7 linked regions of the Homo sapiens genome follow. The protein of the gene in region 1 purifies or fractionates together with the protein of each later gene. This does not show direct contact. Each region holds a gene or a part of one and is shown in the gene's direction. Other genes may lie near its edges.

Region 1 (4,096 bases):
AAAGTCTGTCCAAGTGGAGAAGCAGCAGATGCTGGGAAGGAATATGGGCTTCATGTTCAGTGGCCACGGAGCAGACCCTGACTCTGGAATCTGAGCTAACAATGTCTCCGGGCTTACATTTTCTCATGTGTAAAATGGGCCAAGCTTAGTATACCTAGAGTGTATAGGCAAGGGAAAGAGAGAGATGAGTGAGGGAAAGCGAGAATCCACTGAGACAGTAGCTCTCACTTTGCCTGACCTGCTAGCTTCCTCTCTTGTCCTGGTGTTGACCCATTTTGGACCTCAGGCCAGCTGGCTCCAGGGCTGTGCTTGTGCCTGCTCTGCCATCCCCATGTCTACATCGCTCAGGGCTCCCAGCCCACTGTGCTGCTCAGTGGTGTATATTTCACTTACCTTAAGGCCCAACGACTTGGAAACACATCCAGAAAGTCTGCTAGAGGATGCCTGAATGGTCAAGGTCATCTCAGTCAGGGCACCCAGGGCCACATTGCTCCCTGCAGTCCTTCCCCACATAGCTTGAGAAATGGCTGCCCCAGGAGGGTGCAAGGGTGCAAGGGTGCAGGGGTTCACTGATTACTGGGGAGAGAACAAGTTCAATTCCATGGTTAAAGAAGAAAAATGCAAATTGAATACCTGGCCCAAGGAGGTTCCTGGTCCCACCCCATGCCACCCTTGCCCTGGGATGTACTCTCCTTATGGTCTGACCTATGAGATCTCAGTGGACTCTATCCTCAGAAATCACAGAGTCCAGGATTGCAAACTGGAGGCCCTGCTGTGAGGCCCTGCCCACAGGTGGGTCTTGCCTGGCCTGTAGAGAGCTGGCTCTCTCACTTCCACACATCCCCACCATTCCCCACCGTGGCACCATGGAGTCTTCCTTACCTGATCTAGGAAGGCGGCGCTGGAGCTTGCTGCCCCCTGTCTGATCCAGCCCCTCATGTTGTAGGAGGGAGGTGGGCGACTGAAGCTCAGAGAGGGAGTAAATGAGCTCAACTTCACACAGCTAGTGAGGGGCTGGTTGGAGACCAGATTTTCCAAGTGGTTCCCCGGGCCCTCGGGGAGCAGCAAGGGCCAGGCGAACCTCCATGCACTGCACAAACATGAAGAAGTGAACCCTCTTGGGGTTCCCCAGGTGGGAAGTGGGGTGTCTTCTTGGGAGGGGGTGAACCAACTTCTGGTGAGTTTTCCTTGTTGAGGCAATGCTGCACCCGTAGCCTGTTTGTTAATAATTACCTGGTCGGGAGAGAGTGGGTGGTACTGAGAAGGCCTGGTTTGACCAGTCCTCCTGGGCTTGATAAGACAGAGCTGAGACAGCCACCCAGGGGGTCCACTCCAGGACAGACTGTGCCGTGAGTAACCCCCTGAGACAATGGAGACGAGAGACTCTAGAGGGAGGGTGACCAACTGTTCCACTTTGCCCAAGACTGATAATTCTTCTGGGATATATTTTCAGTGCTAAAACCAGGAAAGTCCCAGGCAAGCTGGGACACTTTGTCACTCTTGCTAGAGGTGAGAAATACTCAGGCTAGAAAGGCCCCGACTTAGGGTCCATGGGCACTGGTGGGTGACTATGCCCGGAGACCCAGAAAAGCCTCCCCCAGGGACACACAGCTGGTACAGGGCGGCACTGACTGAGGGCCAAGGTCTTCTGGCTGCCAATCCAGGTGATCTTGGGGAGCTCATGCCGGAGGGGAGGTGTGTCTGTGAGTGATGCGGTCCTATGTATGTTTCTAAATGATCCCTCCAACTGCTGAGTGGAGAACAGAGAGCAGAAAGACTAGGAAGCTTTCTGCAAGGGTCTAGGTCAGGGGTCAACAAACCACAGCTTGTAGGTCAAATCCGGCCCACCGCCCATGAGCTAAGAATGCAAGATGTAAAATATAAATATAAAATATAAGTGATAAGTATAAAAGATAAATATATAAAGCTATGAAAAATCAATAGAAGAACAACATTTTGTGACACAGGAAAATAATATGAAATTCACATTTCAGTGTCCGTAAGTGAAGTTTCACTGAAACACAGCCACGCCTCTTCATGCATGTCCGGTCTGTGGCTGTTTCCAGCTGCCACAGCAGAGTTGGGTAGTGGCAGCAGAGACTGTGTGGTCTGCAAAACCACAGATATTACTATCTGGCGCTTTGCAGAAAAAGTTTTCTGAGCCCTGGTTGAGGATCATAGCAAAAGAGGGGGCGAGAGGCTGAAGAACCTACAGGAGAGTCTAGGAGTTGGAGACCAGCTTGGGCAGCATGGTGAGACCCCAACTCTATAAAAAATTAGCTGGGTGTGGCTGTGCATGCCTGTAGTTCCAGCTACTTGGAAGGGTGCATGCCTGTAGTTCCAGCTACTTGGAAGGGTGAAGTGGGAGGATCACCTGAGCTCAGGAAGTCAAGGCTGCAGTGAGCCATGATTACACCACTGCACTCCAGCTTGGGTGACAGAGTGAGACCCTGTCTCAAACAAACAAACAAACAACCAAACAAACAAAAAAAACCCAACCCTGCAGGTCATGGAAGTGGATTAAATGGATTTTGGGTGGATAGAAGCCTAGAAGCTTTTTGGCCTGACAACCGGATACTGGTGGGACCATTTGATGGGGCAGGAGCAGATTTGGGGGAGAAACTGGAGTATCCTTTCTTGGACAGATGTTCATTATGAAACGGGTACCAATTCTATCCCCACAACTTTGGGCAGGTCACTTATTAAACATCCATGTCCTTGTCTGTACGGGGTAACAATACAAAGACCAGTTCTACTGACCTCTACAGGGGTGGGAGGGTCAAACTAAATGGCTGAAAGTGGTTTGTAAACCATATAAAGCACTCCACAGATGTTTGTGGAACAGACCCTAAAATAAACTCTGAGGATAGCCATCCTCCATGCAAAATCACTGCACTAATGAAATCAACTCATCTGAAAGACAAGTGTGGGAGAAGCAGCACCTGAGTCTGGGGATGTGGGTTCTGGCTGGGATATGTGCTAGGTAGGTGACTTGGGTGAGTCACTTTGGGAGTCTTCATTTCCTGCTCTGTTGGGTGAGAATGGAGTCTAGTGCTGTGCAGAGCTCACACAGGTGGGAAACACAATGACATGATGGACACAAGGAGTGTGCCTTGTAAGTCTAAAACATTGCCATCCAATAGTGTTGCTGTCACCATACATGTGGAAGGTGGTGGGTGTTACATTGCCTTTCACAAGCCCATCTGCAGGAGTTGAGGGTGTCACTCACGATCTCCGGGTGCTGGCCCACTGCCAGCCTTCTCAGTAGGGCCAGGTGTTCTTCTGGGGGAATTTCCTGGGCATTCTCTTCCCTCCCATAGGCCTGAGAGTGCAGAGGATGCATCTTATCGACTACCTGCTCCTCCTGCTGGTTGGACTACTGGCCCTTTCTCATGGCCAGCTGCACGTTGAGCATGATGGTGAGAGTTGCAGTAACAGCTCCCACCAGCAGATTCTGGAGACAGGTGAGGGCTCCCCCAGCCTCAAGATAGCCCCTGCCAATGCTGACTTTGCCTTCCGCTTCTACTACCTGATCGCTTCGGAGACCCCGGGGAAGAACATCTTTTTCTCCCCGCTGAGCATCTCGGCGGCCTACGCCATGCTTTCCCTGGGGGCCTGCTCACACAGCCGCAGCCAGATCCTTGAGGGCCTGGGCTTCAACCTCACCGAGCTGTCTGAGTCCGATGTCCATAGGGGCTTCCAGCACCTCCTGCACACTCTCAACCTCCCCGGCCATGGGCTGGAAACACGCGTGGGCAGTGCTCTGTTCCTGAGCCACAACCTGAAGTTCCTTGCAAAATTCCTGAATGACACCATGGCCGTCTATGAGGCTAAACTCTTCCACACCAACTTCTACGACACTGTGGGCACAATCCAGCTTATCAACGACCACGTCAAGAAGGAAACTCGAGGGAAGATTGTGGATTTGGTCAGTGAGCTCAAGAAGGACGTCTTGATGGTGCTGGTGAATTACATTTACTTCAAAGGTGAGAGTCAGATCATTGGTATATGCTAAATCCACACCACCGCCTCCAACCCACTAATTTGTTGACTGGTTAAATATATTTTTACAAAAATGTAAGTAAAAACGTTGTGT
Region 2 (3,500 bases), on another chromosome or scaffold:
ATTGGGCCAATGATGGATGGGGCCTGAAGAAAGCTGCTGATGGGGCTGCTGAGGTTCGTGTTTGCTGCTTGTGCATTTGTGTCTGTTATTGTAAGGAGCTGTTATTTTGTGAAAGTCTGTGTTAAGGTTTTTTTTCTTCATTTGGCAATATTGGCATAAAAAGTATAACCATATGCCTGCAAAAGACACAATATTGGGTTTTGGGGCATGATTTCATTAGTCTAATGTAGTGGCTTTAGAGTCTGTTTGTGTTCAGGGTTTTTTTTTTATTATTTGTCTGGGTATATATTTCGAAATTTGTCATTTAGGCTATATTTTAATACACTCTTATATGTTGAATCTCGGTTTACACTACATACAGAATTTTCAAACAACTGGTCATGTGGCCGATTTAAGAATTGGAGAGCCAGGGATACTGAGATAAGAAATTCACTGGATCCTGAGGTTAAGGGAGCCTTTTGCAGGTGATGTAGAAGCCAGCTTTTGCACCTATGAGAGTGAAATCATCTTGATTATAAGGAGAGCAAGAGGATGGAGGCTTTCTCTAATTTCTTTTTTACATTTTATGAGCATTTTCTCTGAAAAAGAAGGTCCTGCGTAGTGCCATGCCATAACTGAACTGCAGAAAAACAGCACGGCCTATGTTTGGTGTCAAAAGCTGGAACTTTCAATCAGCCCTGTCTTGTTTTTCAGCCAGGCGTTGTGGGGCAGATGATCGAGGCAGCTGAAGAGCGCCCGTGGCTGTGGGTAGTCTATATTCTAACTGTAGCCCTTCCTGTGTTCCTGGTTATCCTCTTCTGCTGTTCTGGAAAGGTAGGAAGTTTTTTTTTTTAGAATCAATTTTAGAGACATCACTCTAGTGATTATTAAAAATAACTAAGATATGTTGCCTGAGGTTTTCTTTGTAGTGGCTCAGTAATGACCAAGCCATGTTTGGTGTTGACTTCAGAAACCTTACTTACTGTTCCTCAGTGGCCGTTTATTGTGCCCAGATGGGAGCAGGATTTATAGCCCCTTGGTTGCTATTATTATTTATCCTAATCTGTTACTCTCCATAGTGTTCGGCAGCAACTTTCTAAAAAAAAACAATAAACTTAGATACCAAACTAGCCACTTGGGCAATAATCAGCTTTGCCTGCTGGCATAGCTATTTCTATTCTTTGTAATTCAGTCTTTGATTCCTCATTATCCATTCTGCCTTCACCTTCCCCACTCTCAAAACAGTATGTTGGGGTACCACAGCCTTATTGTTAGTTTTTCTTGTTTAGCCTTTTTTTTTTTGCATGCTATCATAAAAAAAGAAAGTCTTATTTTGGACTCTACTTCTGCTAAATGAGGATTATGCTTCATCTGGCATTCATAGCACTTTGTAACTGGATCCCAAGTTCCTTTTCCAGCCTCAGCCTCTGCCACTATTCTGTGTATCGGTGCCTCAGTCACCTTGACTTTTTTGACCTTTATTTTCCTGCCTGGCCCTTTTGTTTTTATTGTTCTACCTTGAAACACACAAGCACATGTGCATACACACACGTACATACACGCTCTTCAGGGTAGGAATTACATCCTATTCGTTTCTGTATATCTATCCCTGTATACAGCCTGGAACAGAACTTTGCCTGTAGGCATTCAGGAATTATATAACATAATACATGAACATGTAAACAAAATTGTACTTTGGGGAACATTTCAGAAACAGACCAGTGGTATGGAGTATAAGAAAACTGATGCACCTCAACCGGATGTGAAGGAAGAGGAAGAAGAGAAGGAAGAGGAAAAGGACAAGGGAGATGAGGAGGAGGAAGGAGAAGAGAAACTTGGTAAGAAACAGAGTCCAGAAAATCTGCTTTAAGCCAAGACCCTACGATGTTGTTAAACCTTTACAGTCAAGTTAAGGATTGTTTTTAGCCAGGCGTGGTGGCTCAAGCCTGTAATCCTAGCACTTTGGGAGGTTGAAGCAGGAAAATCACTTGAGCCCAGGAGTTTAAGGCTGTAGTCAGCCAGGATAGTGCCACTGCACTCCAGCTGAGCAACAGAGTGAGACCCTGTCTCTCTCTCTCTCTCTTTTTTATTTTTTAAGACAAGGTCCCACTCTGTCACTCAGGTTGGAGTACAGTGGCACAGTCACAGTTCACTGCAGCCTTGACCTTATAGGTTCAAGTGATCCTCCTACCTCAGCACCCCTCCAAGTAGCTGGGACCACAGGCATGCGCTACCATGCTCAGCTGTTTGTTTGTTTGTTTGTTTATTGATTTATTTATTTGATATGGTCTGGCCCTGTTGCCCAGGCTGGAGTGCAGTGGTGTGATCTCGGTTCACTGCAGCCTTTGCCTCCCAGATTCAAGCGATTCTCCCACCTGGGCCTCCCAAAGTGTTGGGATTACAGGCGTGAGCCACCAGACCCAGCGAGATCCTGTCTCTTAAAAAAAAATTGTTGGCCAGGTGCGGTGGCTCACGCCTGTAATTCCAGCACTTTGGGGGGCCGAAGCAGGCAGATCACGAGGTCAGGAGGTCGAGACCATCCTGGCTAACATGGTGAAACCCCATCTCTACTAAAAATACAAAAATTAGCCGGGCATGGTGGCAGGTGCCTGTAGTCCCAGCTACTCAGGAGGCTGAGGCAGGAGAATGGCGTGAACCTGGGAAGGCAGAGCTTACAGTGAGCCGAGATTGGGCCACTGCACTCCAGCCTGGGTGACAGAGCAAGACTCTGTCTCAAAAAAAAAAAAAAAAAAAAAATTGTTGGCCAGGCATGGTGGCTCACGCCTGTAATCCCAGCACTTTGGGAGGCCGAGGTGGGTGGATCACGAGGTCAAGAGATCAAGACCATCCTGGCCAACACAGTGAAGCCCCGTCTCTACTTAAAATAAAAAAGTTAGCCAGGCATGGTGGCGGGCGCCTGTAGTCCCACCTATTCGGGAGGCTGAAGCAGGAGAATCACTTGAACCCGGAAGGCAGAGGTTGCAGTGAGCCGAGATTGCGCCACTGCACTCCAGCCTGGCGACAGAGCGAGACTGAGTCTCAAAAAAAAAAAAAAATTGTTGGCCGAGCAAGGTGGCTCACGCCTATAATCCCAGCACTTTGGGAGGCCAAGGTGGGTGGATCACCTGAGGTCAGGAGTTCGAGATCAGCCTCGCCAACATGGTGAAACCCCGTTTCACTAAAAATACAAAAATTAGCCAGGCGTGGTGGTGGGCACCTGTAATCCCGGCTACTCCGGAGGCTGAGGTAGGAGATCCACTTGAACCTGGAGGCAGAGGTTGCAGTGAGCCGAGATCATGCCATTGCACTCCAACCTGGGTGACAAGCAAAGTCGATCTCAAAAAAAATAGTGGCCGGGCGCGATGGCTCACGCCTGTAATCCCAGCACTTTGGGAGGCCACCGAGGAGATCATGAGGTCAGGAGATCGAGACCATCCTGGCTAACACGGTGAAACCCCGTCTCTACTAAAAATAAAAAAAGTTAGCCGGGCATGGTGGCAGGCGCCTGTAGTCCCAGCTAT
Region 3 (3,500 bases), on another chromosome or scaffold:
ATTTAAATTTGCAATTTTGGTATTAGCATAGGTCAACCTAAACTATGGCGTGTATTTCACAATTTGATTTCATGTACTATCATATTCTATATTCTTCTAATATTCAATTTCTTCTCTATGGAACATTAGGTAACTTAGTGGATGCTATGGCTATGGATGCTGACATCATATGAGCTGTTCCAACTACTCTTCTATATTTAATAACATTTCCTTACCTCCCTGTTTACCAATTCACTTGAGCCTGTGAAAGGAAAAACTGAAGTGGAGGAGAATGTCTTTCTCCTTTTTGTGTTATACTTGTTTCAGCATCAACAACTGGGAACCAGTTTGTTACAACATTTTATAATGATATCTCTATATTAATTTACTTACAACACTAACATAAGTAAGTATAATTTTGGAAGGAGCCAGGAGATAAATTGGAGAAACGAACACTTTTTCCATCATCAGAATCACCCCTTACCTCTCTCTTACAGTCATGCGTGCCTTACACTTTACTTAGTTAATTCCCAAGAGAATCTTCAGTTCTTCCTGAATATGATTTCCAAAAAAACAGCCTTCTACTCACTTACTCTGACCCTTAGTATGGCTCACAGGTTAGGCTCAAGCTAAGTCTCTGAGGTGGGACAATCAGAAGGCTGATCTAGAGGCTTTCTCAACCCTGTACCACACATGCCTGAAGAAAGGCATCACATTTATACAATCAGGCTGTGTTGCCTTTTCTATTTAGGGGGGAACTTGTGAAAAACTTTGAAATGCTCCCAAAAGATGTCTGTCTAACTCAACTTTCCAGCTTATCTCACCCTTTCCTATTTTACAATCCTGGAAATTACAGAAAACTGAGAGTGATGCAAAGGACTCTTGCCCATTGAAATGGAAATAGTTCTGGTGGAATGCAATTGATTATTGCCCTATGCAGAGTGACCAATTTAACCAGATTTGCATCTATTTGTAAATTCTTTGCAATATTCTTGATGTTTATGTTTGTCCTTTGGATTTATTTTTGAACCAGTTGTAATATCTTACAGGTTCCTTTTTTAATGAGTTAGTTAAAATTTATGTCCCATCTTCAAAAAAAATTATCTTGTTATATATACACATGTATGTTTATACATGCATATCACATCTGTAGAAAAATTCACAAGAAGTTGGTAGCTGTAATTACCCCTGCAGAAGGAAAGGCAGGAAAGCTTGCTTTTCACTACATGCCCTTTTGGATGTTTTGAATTTTGTGTTGTATGCCTATGTTACCTAAACAAATAGAAAATTTTTAAAAATTTCTTTTTGAACTCTTGAAAATCAAGACTTAGCGATCCCTTGACTACTAATTTCACGTCTGAAATAACTGACTTTCTATAAAGGTTTTTGCCTCTAAATAAACTACTAATAGAGAGCAGCCTACACATCAACATCATACTTAGAGACTTACTTTTGTATTTTTTAAGGCAAACTAGTAAACTTTACTTTTCAAGGTAGCTCTAACCCTGTAGAAAGATTTTGGTCGGGTGGTGCTAATTCTATGACTACTCTGTTGGGGAATCACACAGTTTTAGTGTAGAGGGAAGTGGCAGACCCATCAGCCTATTTTGCATTTATTCTGTATGCACCTTGCCTCTTCACCAGCTGTGTCCTCTATAATCCCCTTGTCTAATTATAACGAGCAGCCCTCCCATTAAGCCAGTGATTCTCAGGCTTAGATGTATATTAAATCACCAGGAGTGCTTTTAAAAATCGAAATGCTTAGACCAATTGAATCACAATGTCTGAGGGTAAGACACAGACATTGGCATTTTTTAAAGTGATCAAGGTGATGCCAATGTTGAGAAACAGTGTCTTGTGCGAAGAATGGTACTGGCTTAGGAAAAAACTTAACAAATAATACCTCAGAAGCAAAAGCACTCAGGATATCTGACTGGAAGATCTGCATAGGTGATGAAGACGGCCCAAACAGAAAAGAGAGGCACCCTTTACTGTGAATGAATATCCTTGTACAAAGAATCTGTTTTGACCCATGCTGCTTCTGGAATGGGGCAAACTAGATATGGGGGAGTGGTTTAAAAGCCCGAGCTGACTTAGTTACAGATATTAGCTTTTTTTATACTTCTGATTTCAGATAAACTCTCAGTGAGTAAAAAATACCAAATCGGGACTCTGCATATCCCCGCCTTGTTCCTCTGCCATTTGGGGCACTGAGCCAGCCTGCTGACAGTGACATCCATCTAATACCACTGCCACCATATGGTTGTGCTACCGACAAAAGGTTATATTTATCACACACGGTACAACTGGGAAAACCACATACTGTACAAACATGACCTATTAAGCATCTGTTTTAATCAAAGATTCTAGAACTTCTTTGCTCTAACCCTTAAAAATATGCTTTATTAAGAGGTCTTTGATAGAGAAGTAGATTTGTAAAGGGAGAAGTAAAAATGCATCCTTTCATTAATTTTGAAATAGTAAGGCGAGGAGATAGCCTATTTCTTGGTATTTCTTCTCTACCCTGAAAGATATCTCCTAATGGGAAGTCCTGATTAATGGCCCGCTTGTATTCCAAACTGTTTTATTGTTGCCTCAGCCTTTTTCAAAACCTGAAAATTGGTCTCATGAGCTCTACTGTGGTGGTTTGCCTTCATGTACTCATTGTATATCCCCTCCCTTTTGTATAGGAAGACAGAGATGTCAATGACCCCATGCCCAACCGAGGCGGCAATGGACTAGCTCCTGGGGAGGACAGATTCAAACCTGTGGTACCATGGCCTCATGTTGAAGGAGTAGAAGTGGACTTAGAGTCTATTAGAAGAATAAACAAGGCCAAAAATGAACAAGAGCACCATGCTGGAGGAGATTCCCAGAAAGATATCATGCAGAGGCAGTATCTCACATTTAAGCCTCAGACATTCACCTACCATGATCCTGTGCTTCGCCCAGGGATCCTCGGTAACTTTGAACCCAAAGAACCTGAGCCTCCTGGAGTGGTTGGTGGCCCTGGAGAGAAAGCCAAGCCATTGGTTTTGGGACCAGAATTCAAACAAGCAATTCAAGCCAGCATTAAAGAGTTTGGATTTAACATGGTGGCAAGTGACATGATCTCACTGGACCGCAGCGTCAATGACTTACGCCAAGAAGAGTAAGCACACATCCTCTTCTTTCTAAAAATGGGGCAACTGTTGTTTTCATAGGTTTTTAGGTTTAGTTAGATTGTTAGAATGAAGAAATAATTATTGATGCCTTTATTTCAAGGAAATAAGAGGATCTTTGAACAGCAAAATGGTCAGAAGGAGGCAGTCCCTCCATTTATGCCATTGTATTGAAGGTGGGCTGTATAAAATTCTGGGGCCCTCTACGTCAGTGCTATTCAAAATATGGTCCCCAGACTGGCACTGGTCAATGAATTTTTTGTTACCAGTCCACAGTGAGAAAATGAGCTTGCACCAGGATGTAAGTCAACTACACTATTAAATATTTTGTTTAGTTTAAGTGACAACTTTTTAATAGCA
Region 4 (3,500 bases), on another chromosome or scaffold:
TCCTGGCCTCGAGATCTGCCGGCCTCGGCCTTCCAAAGTGCTGGGATTACAGGCGTGAGCCACTGTGCCTGGCCCTTTTTAAGAGGGTCTCACTCTGTTGCCCACGCTGGAGTATAGTGGTGTGATCATAGCTCATTGCAACCTCCAACTCCTGGGCTCAAGTGATCCTCCCACCTCAGCCTCCCAAGTAGCTAGGACCATGGGTGTGCACCACCATGCCTGGCTAATTTAATTTTTTTTTTTTTTTTTAAAGAGACAGGGTCTTGCTTGCAACATTGCCCAGGCTGATCTTAAATTCCTGGCCTCAAGTGATGCCCTACCTTGGCCTTCTAGAGCACTGGGATTACAAGTGTGAGCCACCATGCCCAGCTATACCAGTGGGCTTTTAAATGGACATTTCTTTACCTCTGGGGATAGTCTCATTTTTGTGAGGCTCCCAAGGGGAAAGCAGCCATCTGACCAAACTAGAAAACTAGCAGGCTTCAGCCCAGTGGAATAACATAAAGTAGGACAATCGATACAGACAACATTGATTGGCCATGCTTTGAGTGCTGTGGATAGTGTGTATTGGAAGCTTAAGGGGCCAGCTCATAAGTAAGTTGTAAGTAAGTATTTAAGGATGCTTTTTTTTTTTTTTTTTTTTTTTTGAGACAGAGTCTCACTGTCACCCAGGTGTGAGTGTGATCTTGGCTCACTGCAACCTCTGCCTCCCAGGTTCAAGTGATTCTTGTGCCTCAGCCTCCTAAGCAGCTGGGATTACAGGTGCTTGCCACCATGGCCGGCTAATTTTTGTATTTGCAGTAGAGATGGGGTTTTACCATGTTGGCCAGGCTGGTCTTGAACTCCTGACATCAGGTAATCTGCTCACCCCGGTCTCCCAAAGTGCTGGGATTACAGGTGTGAGCCACTGTCTCTGGCCTAAGGTTGCTTCTTGTTTTTCCCCACACCCCATCTCATACTCATGGGGAGTTGGGTTTGACTGTATTCTTGAAGTTAAGTCTCCATCCTTGGACCCAGCTGCTAAAGTCTAAAATGATTGTGTTTTGGGCTGGAAGATATTATAGAGATCTTTATTTCCTTGCAAACATCAGGGCTGGCTGTTTGTGGTACTGTGGATGAGTGAAGAGTCAGGAGATACACTTCTAGTTCTGTTACTGCCCAATGCCTCCATTTTGCATTTGATAGGTTTTTATTTTTCTGACGACAAAAACTGAGCCCCAGAGAAGTGAAGTGGGCCACGTAATGGTAGGATCTTTTTTAGGCCACCCACATAATAGTGGGACTCTAGTGTTAGAGCTGGGACACAGGCTAGGGGTCTTACAAAGGGTGGCCATAGAAGTTGTTAGAATTGTTTAAAGCATTGTAAAGATGCAGGATGCTTTTGCAGTTAAAAGTCTCCTGGGAAGGAGGAGGCCCTGTCTCCACTTACTGCCTTGTACATGATCTTATACCCTCATGGTTGAAGATTTTTGCTGTCGTGCTGTTTTTCCTCCTACTCATGTCGAAATGTGTTTCTCTTGCTCTTACCTCAGAGGAAATGAATTTGAAGCCTTCCTCCGTGTTAGAAACAAATAGTGCTCAGGCCAGACTTGTGTGTTTCTGTAAAGAATGAGGCCAGATGTAACAGTGGACCTTATCTGGTGATCCAAGCAAACCTTCAAGACATCTCTAAGAGAAAGAGAGAAGGAATGAGTGTATTTCAGAGTGGTTTAAACACACTTTGGAGTCAGACTCACTTGTATTTACGTTCTGATATCTACTTACTAGTTGTCAGATTGTAAGTTACTTATTTTCTCTAAGCCTTAGTTTTATGATCTGTTGAATGGGAATAGTAATATGTATTTTTATAGCTATCTTAAGAATTCAGAGAATAGATATGGTGCTTCCTCTGGCACAATGTAAAACAGCAGTCCCCAACCTTTTTGGCACTAGGGACTAGTTTCATGGAAGACTATTTTTCCATGGACTGGGGGATGTGGGGGATGGTTTGGGGATGATTCAAGCACATTATATTTATTGTGTACTTTATTTCTGTTATTATTATTTTTGAGACAGAGTCTCACTCCATCACCCAGGCTGGAGTTCAGTGGCACAGTCTTGGCTCACTGCAACCTCTGCTTCCCAGGTTCAAGCAATTCTCCTGCCTCAGCTTCCTGAGTAGCTGAGATTACAGATGTGTACCACCACACCCGCTAATTTTTGTATTTTTAGTAGAGATGAGGTTTCACCATGTTGACCAGGCTGGTCTTGAACTCCTGACCTCAGGTGATCCACCCGCCTGGACCTCCCAAAATGCTGGGATTATGGGCATCATGCCCAACCTATTTCTATTATTATTACATTATAGTATGTAATGAAATATACAACTCACCATAATGTAGACTTAGTGGGAGCCCTGAGCTTGTTTTCCTGCAACTAGACGGTCCCATCTGGGGGTGATGGGAGACAGTGACAGATCATCAGGCATTAGATTCTCATAAGGAGTGTTCAACCTAGATCCCTTGCATGCACAGTTCACAATAGAGTTTGTGCTCCTATGAGAATCTAATGCTGCCACTGATCTGACAGGAGGCGGTGCTCAGGCGTTAATGCAAGCGTTGGGGAGCAGCTGTAAATACAGATGAAGCTTTGCTCACTCACTTGCTGCTCACCTCCTTGGATGGGTTTCTGATAGGCTACAGACCAGTATCGGGGGTTTGGGACCCCTGATGTAAATGCTCTGTGTTGTCATCATTATTGACAACAATAGTTTCCAGTTTCTGAGCCACGTCGTAGTTTCAGGATAGGTTATGCTGACCAAGCAAGTTTTATCTTAACCATCACCTCATTGTTGTCTTAGTTGGTTTGTATTACATATTATTTATACCAATAGTTATAGGTATTTCATGCTGAATAACTAAAAGTTGTGAGTAGCAAGGAACTTTGCTGCTTCTCTGCCATCTCCTTCCTTACTCAGCTTAGTGCTTATCTTTCTCAGGTTCTCTCTTGTCAGGTGCTCAAGCCAGCAGGCCTTGTTTCGGGGGCAGTGTCTGATGAGGGGATTTTATTGGGGTAGGGCTGGCTAGTCCAGAGCCTGCCTGGTCCCTCAGATAGTATGTTCTCCTTATCTCTTGCTTTCTGCTCTTCAGCCAGACATGAAGCAATTAGCTCATCAAGGGAATGTTGACTTTTGTCACTGCTTTCCTCTGATTTGTATGCTCATTTCTGGTCCTTGTGCAAAGTCACGGAGGCACAGTCACATACACTGACCCAGATTTTGTGCTCAAGTTGACTGTCTCTCTCTTTGAGATGTACAACTGGTTCCATGTAGCAAGGGAGTGAGGAAAAAGCCCCTGGAGCCAATCCCATTATTTTGATCTCAAGTTGAGTTTTTAAAAAAATCCAAGCACTATGACTATAGACCATGCCTCACTTCTCTGTATGAAACAAATAAGGTAAAAAAAACTCACTATTTGGAGGGAAGGCCAATCTGAATTGGTAAACAATAGGAATTAGTACAT
Region 5 (3,308 bases), on another chromosome or scaffold:
ACCTGTAGTCCCAGCTACTCGGGAGGCTGAGACAGGAGATTTGCTTGAACCCGGGAGGCGGAGGTTGCAGTGAGCCAAGATTGTGCCACTGCACTCCAGCCTGGGTGACAGAGCAAGACTCCATCTCAAAAAAAAAAAAAGAAGCAGACCTACAGCAGCTACTATTGAATAAATACCTATCCTGGATTTTAAAAAAGAAAAAAATATATATAATTTTATTTTAAATTGGCTTTTATCTTTAATTCTTTTTTTTAAAGTTATCAAATCTTCATTTTCTAAGAGTAGCCCTTTATAGTGTACAAAATGATATTAAGTGCATTATTATCTTCGCTTTTCATGGCTCTGAGTCATAAAACAAGCTGGTGGATCTCACTGTACCTAATTTATAGACGAGGAAATTGTCATTCAAAAAGATTGACTGTTATGCCCAGGGTCAGCACTAACCTGCAGAACCAGTATTCAGTCCCCAAGTTCAGTGTCTTCTACTGCCCTCTACTAATGAAAAGTGAAAATTTCCCTGGGGTCTAATTCTCTCTTCAGTTTGCTGTGCCGTTGTTTATCTTTGAGTCTTCATTCTCTGAAGATGGCTTTCTGCCTGTTTCTGGTACATTAGAATTCTCACTATGATATAGAAATGGCTTCAGTTTCATAGCATAATCTTGCAGTTAGCTCTGAATTGCCTCAAAAACCCTGAACAACGCGAGGTTCCAGATGTGTTTTACTTCTTTCATTCATATTTACCCCCATTTGTTGTTTAAAAAGAATTATGAACAATTATTACATCATATGTAGACCACTTTCACTGATTATATGTTGACATTTTCCTCAGTAAAACATAAAGTTCTTAACAAGACTATACTGTAACACCTTTCTCCAACAAAATCAGCTGTATGTTGAAAACTATTAAGTCATTGCTAATGTTTTAAGCCATAATACAGACAGCCTTATACTCTATGATGGGAGAAGGGAAAGTAGTTTGTCCGATGGTGCTACTCTGTATAAACATTACTGATGCTATCTATAGTAGGGCAAGAAAAGTAAAAAGAGTTTTGATTATTCAGGCAGCATTTTTAAAAACCTGTGAATTTGTATCAGTTCTCATCTAAACATTTGGACACAAGTATAAAATGAAAACATATGCACAAGTTATGGTTTTTAAGTTATCTGCTCTTTTTTTTGGTTTCACTGTACCTTTGTACTCTTCTATTAGTGGGAATAATCAGACATGAACTGTGACTTCACATGTACAGTCATACCTCACTTAATGATGGAGATGCACTCTGAGAAATGTCTAATTAGGTTATTTCATCGTTGTGGGAACATCATAGAGTGTACTTACACAAACCTAGATAGTGTAGCCTGCTACACATGTAGGACATGTATATAGCCTATTGCTCCTAGGCTACAGCATGTTGCTGTTCTGAATCATGTAGGCAATTGTAACACAATGGCAAGTGTCTGTTTATTCAAACATCTAAACACAGAAAAGATACTACAACAATAACAATATGGTATAAAAGATTTTGTAAAAAATCTGGTCAGGTGCAGTGGTTCACGCCTGTAATCCTAGCACTTTGGGAGGCTGCCTCAGCAGGTGGATTGCTTGAGCCCAGAAGCTCAAGACCAGCCTGGGCAACATGGCGAAACCCCGTCTCTGCTAAAAGTACAAAAGCTGAGGTTGGAGGATCACCTGAGCCTGGCAAGGTCAAGGCTGCAGTGAGCCATGATCATACCACTGCACTCCAGCCTGGGTGACAGAGTGACTCCCCATCTAAAAAAAAAAATATATATATATATATATACTATATATATATATATACCATATATATGGTATATATATATATAGTATATATATATATGGTGTGTGTATATATATATATATGGTATACCTGTATAGGGCACTTACTAACGGAGCTTACAGAACTGGAAGTTGCTCTGGATGAGTCAGTGGTGAGTGAATGTAAAGGCCTAGGACATTACTGTACACTACTGTAGACTTTATAAACACCGTACACTTAGGTGACACTAAAATTTATAAAAAATGTTTTTCTTCTGGTTGGGCATGGTGCCTTATGCCTATAATCCCAGCATTATGGGAGGCCAAGGTGGGTGGATCACTCGAGGTCATGAGTTTGGGACCAGCCGGGCCAACATGGCTAAACCCCATCTCTACTAAAAATACGATAATTAGCCAGGTGTGGTGGCACATGCGTGTAGTCCCAGCTAATTGAGAGGCTGAGGCAGGAGAATTGCTTGAATCCAGGAGGTGGAGGTTGCAGTGAGCCAAGATCGAACCACTGCACTCTAGTCTGGGTGACAGAGGAGCAAGACTCTGTCTCAAAAAAAAAAATTCTATAATTTTTATAGAAATAATAAAAAACTAACCTTAGCTTACTGTAAATTTTCTAGTTTAGAAACTTATTTAAAAACAATTTTTGGACTCTTCTAGTAATAACGTAGCTTAAAACACACATTGCATAGCTGTACAAAAATATTTTCCTTATATCCTTATTATATAAGCTTTTATCTATTTAAATTTTGAATTTTTAAACTTTTTGGTCAAAAACCAAGACAAACACACTAGCCTAGGCCTATGCAGGGTCAGGATCAAGACATCCCTAGCAGGTGACAGGAATTTTTCAACTCCATTATAATCTGTGGGGCCACCATCATATATATATTGTACATTGACCGAAACATGGTTACATGACTATATAATTTGCGTCAATACTGCTCAGTGTGCCATATTTAAATTTACATGACTATATTGTGATATTCTTTTCAAAATAAAGTTTATTTGGGAGATAACTGATTTTGTGAAAAATTCTTCAACACCAATTTCCTCAGCAGTTGTACTGATTTTCTTACCTGTTATTCTAAATTTTATACCAAAAGTGAGGAAGATGGACAGGTAGTGGAAGGAGAGGGGTACAGTGACACTTTGTGCCTCTGATTATCTGCTCTGTATAGGTATATTTGTAAGAAAAGCTGTGGTTTGATTTAAATTCTTTTGAAATATGCATTAAGTCTTGACCTTTAGCATGATAGTTAATAGTTAATTCTTAGCACTGAAGAAAGTGTTTTTGGTTTTTCGAGGGGGAGGAGGGAGGGTGATGGTTATTATCACTGTTGTTTTGGTTTAGGGTTTTATCGTGTGTAGCAGGTGGACACACTGATTTATGCCTACTGCGTAAATCAGTGCTATAAAATACCCTCTGATTAAACGAAATGCGGGGTTGCCATGAAAATAACGAGAAACAATGATTTCTGATTCAGATGAAGAATCTAGCCATTTGGATCTTTCCTTA
Region 6 (3,500 bases), on another chromosome or scaffold:
ATTGGGGCTGAGAGGCAGGTGATAAATGCACAGTCCTCAGAAGGGGCTGAGGCAAGCTGAGCCCACATCTTCCCCAGCTCTAGTGCCCGCCCAGGACCCCCACTCCATCAGCCATCAGTGGCCAGATCCCTGAGAGCACCTGCTCTGGGGTCAGCCACGTGCAAAAGGCCTGGGAGCCACAACAGGGAAGAAAGGGCCCTGCCCGCCCGCAGCTGGCGGTCACTGGGGAGAACAGACAAGAGAAAGCGTGGAGGATGGCATAGCTCAGAGTAGGGATTGTAGGCGGCAGACCACACTCCGTAGTAACCCCCAGTGTTGTGGGATATTAATGTGCATTACATAGGCAAGGAGTTATGTGATCAAATAGGTTTGAGCTAGGCACGGCTGCGCGTGCCTGTAGTCCCAGCTACTCAGAAAGCTGAGGCAGGAGGATCACGAGTCTGGGAGTTTGAGGCTACAGTGAGCTATGATTATGCCACTGCACTCCAGCCTGGGTGACAGAGTGAGACTCAAAAAGAAAAAAAAAAAGAAGGTTTAAGAAACAAGTTTCTTAAATTTAAGTTACAGTGGCTCACACTTGTAACCCCAGCACTTTGGGAGGCCAAGGCGGGTGGATCACTTGAGGTCAGGAGTTGGAGACAAGCCCGGCCAATATGGTGACACCCCATCTCTACTAGAAATACAAAATTAGCTGGGCATGGAGGTGGATGCCTATAATCCCAGTTACTAGGGGGGCTGAGGCAGGAGAATTGCTTGAACCTGGGAGGTAGAGGTTGCAGTGAGCCGCGATCGTGCCACTGCATTCCAGCCTGGGCAACAGAGCGAGACCCTGTCTCAAAAAAAAAAAAAAGAAAAGAAACAAGTTTCTTCTCTGCAGGACTTCTCAGAGGCTTTGATAAAGTCCTGTGCCTAACCTGCAAGAGGGGCATGGGGAATGAATTCAGTGCTTCCCAAGTGAACCTGACCACAGAACCTTTACAGAGCACCCGGCAGGATGAGAGTTCCACGGCGCAAACTTTGGGAACCCTCTGCCCCCATCCCCCTCTATGCCCTTGTGTGCCATGCTTACACCCTGCTACCACCTGGATATTCTGGTGTCTGGGGAGGCACTGTCACCCCTCTTGACCATTGGCATGGGGCGGGGTGGCTGGAAGGGCTTACCTGGGCCAGGGCAGCTGTCTCAGGCCTCACCCTCACCCACCTTGTCTCCTAGGCCTGCCTGGCACTTCTCCCGTGCTGCAACCGAGGTATGGGCCTGGCATCGCAGGGGCAGCAGGGGCTCTGACTGCTCTTTCTCTGAGCTGGGGTGGAGGGAAGCTGAACCTGGAACGGCAGAGGCTGGAGGCTCTGGGGTCCCACCTGAAGAGGTTGGGCTGTGCGGGTCTAGGGAGGGGTGCCGTGCTGAGGACCCCATCCTGCAGGTCACATGGTGGGCTTTAAGGAAGACCACTACATGCTGCGGGAGAACCTGATGGCCTCTGACCACTTGGACACGCCCATGCTGCGCAGCGGGAACCTCAAGGGCCGTGACGTGGTCCGCTGGAAGGTCACCAACAACATGCAGCGGCCTGGCTTTGCCACTCATGCCGCCAGCATCAACCCCACAGAGCTGGGTGAGGGCGGGGCTGGGCGCCACAGCTCTGGGCAGTGCCCTTCGGGCCCTCTGTTCCAGATCTGGGATCACAGCATGCCTCTTCTCTGGGTGTGGGGTGCAGGCACAGGGCTCAGCCACCTTTTGCCCTGTGCTGATGGTGCTATGAACCTCATGCCTCGGTGTGCGTGGCCTGCTGGCCAGGCATCCCCTGATCCTAGCATGGTTGCTGGAGGGATGCTCTGTGGTGCCTGTCATGCAGGGGGCTGACCACCTCCATCTCACCCCCTCCCACCGCCTTTCCTTAGTGCCCTACGGGCTGTCCTTGCGCCTGGCCCGCCTTTGCACCGAGAACCTGCTGAAGCCTGACACTCGGGAGTGCGCCCAGCTGCGCCAGGAGGTGGAGGAGAACGTAAGGACCCAGGAACTAGGCCTGGCCGGAGATGTGGGTATGAGGGCGGGTGAGGTGGGCAGGGCAGAGCGAATGCGGTCGTGGTACCGAGATTCATTAACTAGGGGAGAGGGGTCTCTCTGGACCTGTGCCTGGCAGGGGGCATCCTGGGATCTGTTTCCAGAGGGCAGAAGGCCAGAGCCTGGGCCCAGGATGCTGCCCCACGGGGCATGCCCCAGCCAACCCTGAGGATCTCTGGGTACAGAGGCTGCCTGGCTCCCTGGGTCCCCAGCCTGAGGGCTTGCCACGGGGTGGCCTAGGCCCAGCCTCACGCCCCTCCCTTGCCTGGCAGCTGAACGAGGTCTACAGGCAGATCTCCGGTGTACACAAGCTCCAGCAGACCAAGTTCCGGTGAGTCCCGGGGTGCCCGGGTTGGGTGGGGGAGCCGCTCCTACCGGGACTCCAGGAGCCGAAGCCCCCAGGCCGATCAGGCCTCCACTTCAGGGCTATCTAGCTCACAGCGCCCTCTTTGTCCCCACAGGCAGCAGCCCAATGCCGGGAAAAAGTGAGTAGAAGACTCGTGGGTGAGAGGGCCCCCACTTCCTGCCCGCCTGTCCCCAGCCCAGCCACTGCCTCGTCCGTCCCTACTCCATCTCCATCCCATAGGAAGGGAGGGTCAGATGTGTCCGTCAGGTTCGGACCTTCATTCGTTCCTTTGACCATTTCTTCAACAAATGCTAATGTGAAGTGCTTGCTATGAAGTGGCCCCTGGACTAGAGCAGGCAAAAGCAAATCAACCCAGTCCCTGCCCTCATATAGGTGACTGTCCAGCCCCCCACCCGGTACCAGCGATAGCAGGTACCCATCTCCATCCGCTCCAGTGTCCAAGACCCTGATCTTGGGTGCACCTCTGGGGACCAGGCAGGTTACCGAGAGGATGGGCCAGCAGGTCACACACCTTTTTTCCCAGGTCCTACATCGAGTCCTGGCCCTTCATGGGGAGAGAGAGGGAGTGAGGAGGGGGTCTTGATGCAGGGACAGAAGAGCTAGAATCTCAGCACATGACCATCAGTAAGAACCGTTGGCTGTGCGTGGTGGCTCACACCTGTAATCCCAGCACTTTGGGAGGCTGAGGCGGGTGGATCACCTCAGGTCAGGAGTTTAAGACTAGCCAGGCCAACATGGTGAAACCCCACCTCTACTAAAAATACAAAAATTAGCCAGGTGTGTTGGTGGGCACCTGTAATCCCAGCTACTTGGGAGGCTGAGGCAGGAGAATCCCTTGAACCTGGGAGGCAGAGGTTGCAGTGAGCCGAGATTGCGCCACTGCACTCCAGCCTGGGCGACTGAGTGAGAATCCGTCTTGAAAAAAAAAAAAAAGAATGGCTGACCAGCATTTCTTATCCTGCTACGGGCCAAGCATTGTCCTAAGGGCTTTCCGTGTGTGGTCATCTTATCCAACCCTCTCGTCAAGCCTGTGAGGTAGAGATCACTGCTGTTCCCATTTTGCAGATGAGG
Region 7 (3,500 bases), on another chromosome or scaffold:
TTTTCTCTTTTTTAAAAAAACTTTGTTCAGATGATTTTCTGGGTAGACAATCCTATCTTTAATAAGGACAGTTTTGTCTCTTCTTTTCCAACAGTTATACTTTTATTTTTACTGTCTTATTGCATTGGCTTCCAACACAACACTGAATGGTAGCGTAAGATCTGCACTGTTTGCCCCCACCCCATTTTTTTTGTACTGTAGTAAGCATTCTTCTAATGCAGGATTTTTTAACCCAGGGTTAGATCTACGAATGGAATCCCTGAATTCCTGGACATGATTTCTGTATATGAGCATCTATGCATTTGTGTAAGGTGAAATTGTGTAGACTCTTAAAAGGGTCCATGACCACAAAGATAAGAACCACTATTTTAGCTTTTTGTGTAAAATATGATGTGAGCTCTTGATTTGAAATGTATATCCTTTATAGAGTTAATTCTACTCCTAAATTTCTTACTAGGTTTTACCTTGTCTGGCTGTTGTTGTTTCTTAGTTAGAAATTGATGTTTCAGGGATCTATTGAAGCAATTGCATATTTTTTCCCATTTTATGTTAATGTGACTTACATTAATGTATTCCCTAGTGTTTGTGGCAACACTGTACTTTAACTTCATATTATAGTTCTGGTATAGTGGTCCTTAATATGCTATTGGATTTTAGTTTTTAATATTGGCTAGAATTTTTGTGATAATGTTATGGGATTTTTAGGGTGTCACTTTTCTGGCCTGAAACCTCTATGGCCAGTGGCGCCTTTGCCCAAGTTCTTGTCCTGTGTCCAGGAAGAATGAGGTACACAGACAAGTGGAGGGTGTGCAAGACAGAGAAGCTTTATTGAGTGTTAGGGGAGCTCACAGGAGACCCGCAGGGGGCAGCCCCTCTCTGTAGGCGGGTTGTCTTGTCGGCGGGTTGTCTTGTCAAATGTTCAGCTCTCAGCAGAGAGAAGGCCCTGGAGTGGGTGGCTCCTCTCTGCAGGCAGGTCATCCCATTGTCTCTGCAGCTCTTAGCAGAGAGGAGGCCCTCGAGAGCGTGTCTCCTCTCTGCAAACAGGGCATCTCAACTAGTGTTCAGCTCTCAGCAGAGAGAAAGCCCTGGAGAGGGTAGCTCCTCTCTGCAGCTGGTCGTCCTGACATCCCTTCAGGTCCTGAAGCTCTCAGCAGAGAGAGCACCTCCTCTCTGCAGCTGGTCGTGCCATGCTCTGCCCTGCTCTGACTGAGCCTGGGGCTTTTAAAGGCCTCAGAGAGGGGAAGTGCATGCTGATTGGTCCATGTGCAGCCATGTGCAGGCCCAGAAGAAAGCACCTTGAGTTCCCCTCTGGTCCGTAGGACGGGCAACCCGGCCCCCAGGCTTCAGGCCTGCCCCAGCCTGAAGGTGGGGCTTCACTGGGGACCCATCCTCTTCTGCCCAGGAGCCTATCTGCCTCCTGCAGCCATCCATGGTGCCCAGGCTGCTGGTACCAAGGGGCACCGGTGCCCAGCCACCCTCAGCACCCCCCCAAGCCTCCCCTCCTGCACTTCTCAGTGCCCACAGTTTGGAGGGGGCCAAGTCAGCAGGGGGCTGGCATGTCAGCACTGCCACAAGCATGCACCCACCCGGCCAGGCTGTGACAGTGCCCAGGCTCAGCCCCAACTCTGCTCTGAGATTGGAGTGGGTGGTGGGAGCGGGAAGAAGCTGGGCAGCGGGAACAGGCACCTCCAGGCCTACAAGGGAAAGAGGGGCCTTCCCTGGCTCCCCAAGAGTGCAGCGATGCCTGGGTCAGCAGCCCCAGTTGGGGCAGCTGAAACTGCACCAGGAGTGGGGGCTGGCTCCTGCCTCCTCCATGGAGCAGAAGGCCCAGATCCACAGCCACGACTTGGGCAGTTGTACCTGGGGAACTCTCACCTCGCCAAACTGCAAGGGGCAGGGATCCCACTTATCCCCGGCTCCTGCTGGCTCCGTGGAGCATGGTACCTGGCCATGTCCTCTCGCAGCCTGGGGCAGGGTCTCCAGACCTGGGCCAGCATCCCAGACAGGGGCAACACCGCCGTGAGCTCCCCTTCACCCAGCACACCACCCGGCCCGGCCCCATGGCAGCGGCCCCCAGGGAGGCAGTCTGCGGGGTTGGGGGCCTGTCTGCCTCTTCCATGGGCCCTCCCTGAGCAGCCAGTGTGATGGCAGCGGCCACACCAGATGGGCTGCCGCTGCCATCAGTAATATTTATAGTGATATTTATCTGTAGAGTTACTTTTAGGGACTTTTTTTTTTATCAAGCTTTGGTCACAGGTTATGCAACATTTAAAAATGAATTGGGAAAAAGTTTATCTTTTTATGTTCTAAAACAAGTTAAATAGCATGAAGTGCTTGTCCTTGAAGCTGTGAAACTCACCCACAAACTGCCTGAGCTGGCACCTTTGGGAACGGACTTCATTCCTCCCTGGGCCCCAGGCTGAGCAGGTCTGGCCTGGGTCACCTCATCCACTCCAGACGCCGCAAAATCACAGCAACCCTTCAGGGCCCTCTCCTGGCAGCGCCTCCCCTAGTCCCGGTGCTTGGACACTCCTCCCATCTGCACCGAGGAGAGGGCGGCACTCCAATCCCTGCATTACCCCTGGAACTGCACGCTCTGAACCAGGCCCGGTGCCCTTTCTGCCCAGCTGCCCGGCTGCTGCCAGCCCCACTCTGCGGAGCCAGCAGCACAGTGAGGCCCGTCCTGATGGCCTCCTGGAGCTGGAGCTTAGGCCAAGCCACAGGGCATCAGGGAGGATGGACGTTCAAGGGCTGGATCTGTTTGCCCCAGGGTCCTGGCACCCAACAGAAAGGAAAGCCAGGCTAATGACGGCTGTGTCCCTACACTTGACAGAGTCCTCCCTCCCTCCTTATCAAAGTCCTGTTTAAAGGGAATGGAGCCAGGCTGGAGAGAGAGTGCCTAGCTCTGCAGGGGAGCCGGTCTGGGGAAGCTGGGATCTCTCTCCCGCCCTCCCCTCTGCACTGTTTCCAGGGCAGCCCCAGGCAGTGGGGGGCGCCAGACAGTGGTGCTCCATTCCCTTCCATGCCGACGCGCCCAGCTACCCACTCCACCCAGCCCTGGAGGACATGGAAGGGCCTCAACCATCCAAATCCCACCCAAAACTGAGCCCAGAGGCACCCACTAAACATCTGTGACCCCACCCAGGGTGGGGCAAGAGGGCGCAAGCCCCCCAGTCCAGATGCTGGTGACGGTGTGTGCTGGGCGCAGACCCCGCTTCCTTGAAGACTGAGGGCAGTGCCCCCAATCCCGCTGACCTGCTGTGCGTGCGCCTGCCATGGGGGAGGGTGCCAGGGGAGAGGCACTGGGGGTGTCTGAGCGACCCCCACCCCTGTTGCAGGACTTCAGGGCCACAGGTGCTGCCAAGATGCTCCAGGGCACCTGCTCCGTGCTCCTGCTCTGGGGAATCCTGGGGGCCATCCAGGCCCAGCAGCAGGAGGTCATCTCGCCGGACACTACCGAGAGAAACAACAACTGCCCAGGTGCCAGGGGTCGGGGGCCG

The links.
Region 2: the proteins of SERPINA4 (region 1) and CANX purify together in Homo sapiens (co-immunoprecipitation; 2 studies listed by BioGRID and IntAct, with this or other methods). This does not show direct contact.
Region 3: the proteins of SERPINA4 (region 1) and GALNT7 purify together in Homo sapiens (co-immunoprecipitation; one large-scale study listed by IntAct). This does not show direct contact.
Region 4: the proteins of SERPINA4 (region 1) and SIL1 purify together in Homo sapiens (co-immunoprecipitation; one large-scale study listed by IntAct). This does not show direct contact.
Region 5: the proteins of SERPINA4 (region 1) and FKBP14 purify together in Homo sapiens (affinity purification with mass spectrometry; 4 studies listed by BioGRID and IntAct, with this or other methods). This does not show direct contact.
Region 6: the proteins of SERPINA4 (region 1) and ITGB4 purify together in Homo sapiens (co-immunoprecipitation; one large-scale study listed by IntAct). This does not show direct contact.
Region 7: the proteins of SERPINA4 (region 1) and COL6A2 purify together in Homo sapiens (co-immunoprecipitation; one large-scale study listed by IntAct). This does not show direct contact.

Annotation. Positions count from the first base shown.
Region 1 is NC_000014.9:94,560,146-94,564,241, forward strand, and holds the start of SERPINA4 (kallistatin isoform 2 precursor), read left to right. Parts: upstream 1-1,296; 5' UTR 1,297-1,349; exon of another isoform or gene 1,350-1,570; coding exon of another isoform or gene 1,571-1,664; intron 1,665-3,320; coding exon of another isoform or gene 3,321-3,337; coding exon 3,338-3,986; intron 3,987-4,096. UniProt on the Homo sapiens protein: Inhibits human amidolytic and kininogenase activities of tissue kallikrein.
Region 2 is NC_000005.10:179,722,967-179,726,466, forward strand, and holds part of CANX (calnexin isoform d precursor), read left to right. Parts: coding exon 1-53; intron 54-693; coding exon 694-813; intron 814-1,690; coding exon 1,691-1,817; intron 1,818-3,500. UniProt on the Homo sapiens protein: Calcium-binding protein that interacts with newly synthesized monoglucosylated glycoproteins in the endoplasmic reticulum. It may act in assisting protein assembly and/or in the retention within the ER of unassembled protein subunits.
Region 3 is NC_000004.12:173,245,311-173,248,810, forward strand, and holds part of GALNT7 (N-acetylgalactosaminyltransferase 7), read left to right. Parts: intron 1-2,669; coding exon 2,670-3,130; intron 3,131-3,500. UniProt on the Homo sapiens protein: Glycopeptide transferase involved in O-linked oligosaccharide biosynthesis, which catalyzes the transfer of an N-acetyl-D-galactosamine residue to an already glycosylated peptide.
Region 4 is NC_000005.10:139,188,369-139,191,868, reverse strand, and holds part of SIL1 (nucleotide exchange factor SIL1 precursor), read left to right. Parts: intron 1-3,500.
Region 5 is NC_000007.14:30,010,087-30,013,394, reverse strand, and holds the end of FKBP14 (peptidyl-prolyl cis-trans isomerase FKBP14 precursor), read left to right. Parts: 3' UTR 1-2,808; downstream 2,809-3,308. UniProt on the Homo sapiens protein: PPIase which accelerates the folding of proteins during protein synthesis. Has a preference for substrates containing 4-hydroxylproline modifications, including type III collagen. May also target type VI and type X collagens.
Region 6 is NC_000017.11:75,738,459-75,741,958, forward strand, and holds part of ITGB4 (integrin beta-4 isoform 1 precursor), read left to right. Parts: intron 1-1,213; coding exon 1,214-1,247; intron 1,248-1,421; coding exon 1,422-1,613; intron 1,614-1,899; coding exon 1,900-2,003; intron 2,004-2,334; coding exon 2,335-2,393; intron 2,394-2,523; coding exon 2,524-2,547; intron 2,548-3,500. UniProt on the Homo sapiens protein: Integrin alpha-6/beta-4 is a receptor for laminin. Plays a critical structural role in the hemidesmosome of epithelial cells. Is required for the regulation of keratinocyte polarity and motility.
Region 7 is NC_000021.9:46,108,112-46,111,611, forward strand, and holds part of COL6A2 (collagen alpha-2(VI) chain isoform 2C2 precursor), read left to right. Parts: intron 1-803; exon of another isoform or gene 804-1,985; intron 1,986-2,359; exon of another isoform or gene 2,360-3,338; 5' UTR 3,339-3,365; coding exon 3,366-3,480; exon of another isoform or gene 3,481-3,500. UniProt on the Homo sapiens protein: Collagen VI acts as a cell-binding protein.